Regions from separate parts of the Homo sapiens genome. Here region 1 is linked to region 2. The links come from fine-mapping of genetic effects on gene expression. A gene starts in region 2. The other region holds a variant in brackets. All regions are shown on one strand. Distances are between the middles of the regions. Region 1 has its middle 24 kb from the start of BHLHE41. Region 2 holds the start of BHLHE41 (basic helix-loop-helix family member e41).

What was found.
Region 1: its variant is fine-mapped to the expression of BHLHE41 in lung (TOPMed, PIP above 0.99).

The regions. Positions count from the first base shown.
Region 1 is chr12:26,099,205-26,102,124 of GRCh38, reverse strand. No RefSeq gene overlaps it. Among named protein-coding and RNA genes, the nearest start is that of BHLHE41, 24 kb to the left of the region's middle. The variant G/A (reference allele first, on the strand shown) is at 1,352.
Region 2 is chr12:26,123,439-26,126,358 of GRCh38, reverse strand. BHLHE41 (basic helix-loop-helix family member e41) reads left to right here and starts at 1,322. Exons shown (of 5, transcript NM_030762.3): 1 at 1,322-1,641; 2 at 1,777-1,840; 3 at 2,180-2,287; 4 at 2,618-2,729. The coding sequence starts at 1,580. It also overlaps a transcript of SSPN not described here.

The DNA of each region.
Region 1 (2,920 bases), 24 kb after region 2:
TCTACCACCTAATTGCATAAACATGGGAAAACCACTTATACATCTTTTTGTCTGTTTCCTTATCTATAGAATGGGGATGGTGATAAGATAAGGTCCACCTTACAGCATGCTGGGGTTCTGAGCTCGTTGAATGTTAAAGTCCTAAACAAACATTAGTTGTAATTGGTTCCTAGAGGGCAATCTCATCGACAGCATGAAATCAGAAATGAGACAGCTTCGCTCATGAGTCTCACTCATCAGCTTTGTGACATTAAGCAACTTACTTCTCAAAATTTATGTTTCGTCATCTGTAAAGAGGATGATTTTAATGAGAGTAGCATCTCTGTAGGACAGTTACAAGCATTAAATGACATAATCTAAGACCTCCTGCATGTCTTTTTGGGGGAGTTCAGTGGTCATGCAATACACTATGGAGAGACTAGAAGGAAGGCAGACAGGTGCAGTTTCCATTTGGCATCATGGGTCAGCATGCCCCAGTGGCATCAGGGTTCTTTCTTTGGCTGCAGAGCTGCATTCCCATGCTATGCTAATAACCTCTGCAAAACACAGTCGACCTGATCTTCCTGCTCTTTCCAGATAATGTGACCAACCTTTAGCCACCACTTGCTCACTTACCCGATAGGTTGTAAAACCAGTTTTTTTGGCATCTTGCCACCTCATCAGTGCTCACCTGCATATTTTTTTTCTGGGTTAGAGGATCATGAGTTCTTGGGTTCGCTGTGGTCAGAGTCAATAGCTGTCTATCAGGAAGTTGCTTTATTAATGAGATAATTCAGAATTTCTTCCGGAACTTCAATCTGTTGCTGGGTAACAACCTGTACCTAAAATCTACACAGATCTTCAATTATCGCTTAGTTAGGAACATGCTAGGATTGCCCGGCTGTCAAACACTCTTAATTGCACTAGGACCGGTTAGTATCTCATGCATTTGGAGCACAAAAGCACTGAGCAAAGCATATGACTGTCTGGTCAAGTCAAGCCCGCCGTTCCAACATTAGGCAATTGTTTCCATGAACAGTTTTCACGCTTCTGATATGGAAAAGAGATATGATCATGGCTATTATTTGCTTTGTGTTTCTAATATGCTGAGCAGTGTTTTAAGCATATAACAACTGCTAATTCATTTAATTTATGAGGTAAATGTTATCATATAAAGAAACCTATGTGCTCAGAGGTTAAGCAACATGCTCCTAGTCATACAGCCACCCTTCACTAGGCTATTTTGCCTACTGTTATTTCAAAAGCTGGGGACAGGGGAAATAACATTAATTTGTTTCTCATAATGGCAGAAGACCGTTTCTTTCTGTTACTAAATTTACTATGAAGAATTTCATTGCAAATAGTTATGCAA[G/A]AGACCTTTTACAGCTATACTAATTTAACAGTGATGTAATCTTGATTCTAAAAAATATATATTTGGGTCAGAAAGAGTCTCACCATTTCCTTTATTGTATTTTCCCCCAATATGAAAATTGTTTTGTAAAGTTTTAGCATTTTTTCCCTTTCATATCTACTCTGATTGGCTTTCGGGACCAATACGAGTTACAAATTAGATGCTTCCAAAATATCTAGTTGAACATTTCACTCAGTCAATTGTTTTGTTGCCTAATGTAATATCCATTTGTTCCCCCAGAGAGAGATTTTCTTCAGTGTAGCAATGATTTTGGTGCTTTTCAGACACGATCAATTTAATAGCAAAATGCCTTACACCTCACAGGTACATAGTAATACTTAACAAATGAAATAATGAATGAGTTAATATGAACTTTTGACAATCCTATATTTATATCCACATCACATAGGAATGCTCAGCTTACAACTGTCTTTTAAAGAACATTATTAATCAGAATAAAACTTACTTCATGGGCCTAGCTACTAATAATTTCTTATTACTGACCATTTCCTTCTTTTAAGTGGTAGGATGGATAGGAAAGAGGGAGGAATAGTGAGGAATTCACAAATGAAAGAGAGACCCTTAGAATCTTGGTTCTCAAGCTTATGAGAACTAAAGGTCCCCTTTTATAACAAATATTTTCTTATGCTCCTTTACTAGCTTAAAATGAAATTTATAGAAAATATAGTCTGTAATGCACATTAATTTTAAAAAATATAACTATCATATATCAATAATATTATTAAAATAATGTAATGCCTTAACTTTGATATAAAGGAGAAATAAAAGAAATTATATATATAATTATATATAATAATATATAAATATATATATATTTAAGTATGGAAAGGCACAGATGGTAGCTATGCTACAAAATGTAATGAAGTAGTCAGGTGCTTATACTGTTAATATATTGATGCCAATATATTACCTTCAAGTTGACTCTTCTTTTCATATTTGACATTTTGAATAAAGAATAAAAAGTATATTTAAATGTATACTTAGAACCACCTTGAATCAAGAGCTACAAACACAGATTGTTATCAGTTTATTCTATTGGTGACTCAGTTCCAGAAGTTAAGATGCTCCTGTGAAATGAACTTCAAAGATGGTTAACAAACCTGGGTAAAGTTCTGAGTTAAATAAAGCATAATCTCTCCTCAACTCAACTGGTAGTTGTATTCTTGGAACACTCAATTTTATTAAAATGATGCTAGGGCTGTGAATGGTGGCCTGCATCTGTAATTCCAGCACTTTGGGAGGCTGAGGTGGGAGATTGCTTAAGCCCAGGAGATCAAGGCTGCAGTGTGCCATGATCTTGCCACTGCACTCCAGCCTGGGCATGAGATCTTGTCTCTAAAAACAAAAAGAGAGGAAAAAAAACCATGCTAAAAACAATTTATGCTTATATGTAAAACAGATAGGGCATTAAACATTGTGAGAGATAGGACAATAATTTTTCATTGTCAAGGGTTGACCTATGCTCTGTAATATGTTTAACATCCCTGGCTCTCTCACGCATATTTTTAA
Region 2 (2,920 bases):
TCTCTATGTCTTTATGTATATCTAGAGAAATATATATATAGCCTCCATCCCACCCCTGGGAGTCCCTCAGGACATGCCTTCCCCTGGGCTGGCAGGGCGGCGTGGGCAGTGCGCATCCCCGGGCACCTCCCGGTAACTCTCACTAGCAGTGAGTCATGCTCCCAGGGTGGCTCTGGGGAAAGGTAACCCGGCTCTTGCTGGCCTGTGATTCCCGGCGCCGAGCGCCGCGGCTGCAGGGCGAGCGCGCGCGCGCACGGGTTCCCCGAGCAGTGATGTGGCAGCAGCGGCAGGTCGGATCACGTTGCTGGCCCTGTGCTGGTACCCGTTTGAGACCGGATTAAGGAGGGAGGCTTTGGAGGTGCCAGCGGTAGTAAACGTGGGCTCTGCACACTCCGGGCGTCTCTTATCGCGCGGGGGGGCGGGGGGATGGGGAAAGCACGTAGCGTCACCGGAGGCTCAGAACGCGGCAGAGTTGAGCGGGCGGGTGATAAATGCTGCATAGCTTTTCTGTGGTAGCCCCTCTCGTGCCACCCCCTCTCGTGCCACCCCCTTCTCCCTTCCCAGCCCCCACTCAACCCCGGCTCGCTCCCCGCCGCGTTCCTCCAGGAGCACACGCGGCCCCAAACGTCGTCATCTGCTGCTGTGATTAGTGGCACCGCAATTCCGGCTGCTGCGGGGAAGTTTAGTTGGCCCAGGGACGCCGTGTCACCGAAAGACACTTGGATTGCGACATTCGGACCCAGTGACAACGTTTTCATGTATCTTAAATCCTTCAAGGAGCGGATTGCAAGTTGCTTCTTCTCGAGGCAACCTCTCCACCCAGCGCCAAGGAGTCCCTCCAGGCCACTGATCAGTGAGCAAACAAGTCTCCAAAATTTCCTTTGGGACTCAAGTTTACCCACCGCGAATTCTCTTTTCACTTCCTTTCTATGGTTCAAACCAACAGCACAATCGGTGGAAAAGCAAAAAGCCACGTTCACATTCCTGCACCGTAACAACGGACGAACCCAGGGAGTCGCATTTTGGAGCCAAGGAAGCTCAGGCTGCCCCGCACCCCTGCACCCCCACTCCCCCCTCCTCCTGCCGACTGCATCGCCTTTGGGAAGATGAATAGCTTGGCCGAAGTTGTTTTTCCTTTCCGGTGGCCCTGATCAGGTGTCCCCGCCCCCTCCTGCCGTTCGCCTTCTCTCGCCGCCTTCTCCCGACGCCCCCGCCCGGCCCGGCCCCTCCTCCCCCGCCCCCCTCCGGGCTGGACCGCGGATGGTACGTTCCGCACGTGAGCTGGGTGCTGGTCTGGCCGGCGACGCGCGTGCCCTGTGGCCAAACACTGCCTGGAGTGAGAGCAAACTACCAGCGCAGTGGGGCCGGCGCGAGTGTGCGTGTGTGTGCGTGTGTGTGTGCGAGCGCGGTGGAGGGGGGGGACCAACTGCTTCACACTTTCAACACTGCACTGAAGAGGGAGAGCGAGAGAGAGACTGGAGACGCACAGATCCCCCCAAGGTCTCCCAAGCCTACCGTCCCACAGATTATTGTACAGAGCCCCAAAAATCGAAACAGAGGAAACGAACAGCAGTTGAACATGGACGAAGGAATTCCTCATTTGCAAGAGAGACAGTTACTGGAACATAGAGATTTTATAGGGTAAGGTGCACGCACCCTTGCGAATATCTGTCTAGGCTTTGGTTTGATTTTTTTCTTCTCCAGAAAGTGGTATGGAGCTGGCGAGGGCAGAGCCCCTCCCCGAATGGGTGCCTGATGCTGATTTCTGTTTTGCAGACTGGACTATTCCTCTTTGTATATGTGTAAACCCAAAAGGAGCATGAAACGAGACGACACCAAGGTAAGTGTAAGTTCCCGATATTCCTCATAACCTGCATGGGTAGTTAATTAGAGCCATTGATTTCACAGTGAAGCTCTGCCCGCAAATATATTCCAGCCCCTGAGCTTCCCCAACTGTGAATTTTAAGTGGCTTGCTGGGTACTCTCAGGGGGATATTAAACATCATACCTGAATTTAAATTGCATTGCAGAACAGTCCAGAGGAAAGAGGTTTCTTGGGTGTAGTTTATCACATAGTATGTTTTATGGTGGGGGGGCGGGGGGGGCAGACGAGGGTAATATCCAATAAGTGAATGTTTCGCTTACTGTTTTCTCTTTTCCATGACTCTCATATATTAAGGATACCTACAAATTACCGCACAGATTAATAGAAAAGAAAAGAAGAGACCGAATTAATGAATGCATTGCTCAGCTGAAAGATTTACTGCCTGAACATCTGAAATTGACAGTAAGATGCACATTTTCATTCTTTGCTGCTCTCCAAGGGCGTGTTAATAGTCTGGTGCGACTCCCAGAAAATATAAGAATAAATGTAAATATAAGTTCCTGACTTAAAACTTGTGCTATACCGTACAGAGTTTCCCGCAAACTGGAGTAGGTGCTCCCAGCTGAAGGCAAGAAATCATTTATAACCTGTCTTGTGGAAAGCTCAAGAAGTAAAAGAACAGTACTTCTTTCAAAGTGTTTGCTTAAATTGCTGTGCTGAATGGACAGCCAATTAAGCCAAATGTGTGTTTTTAAGTAACCAAGTGCCCGTTTCTTTTTTGCACCACTGCAGACTCTGGGACATCTGGAGAAAGCTGTAGTCTTGGAATTAACTTTGAAACACTTAAAAGCTTTAACCGCCTTAACCGAGCAACAGCATCAGAAGATAATTGCTTTACAGAATGGTAAGTCAGTTCAGGGAGGCCAGCCTACCCTGATGAAGCGGGGCAGCCCACAGGGGAGCAGTGTCAGGACTCCCTCACCCGCACCCCATCTCTTTCCGTGGGCTCATGGGTTCCCTCTCATTTGTTAAATTGCTTATACTTTCCCTTCATTGGAACGAGCCCATTTCCCGAAGCATCCTAGAGGCTTTCAG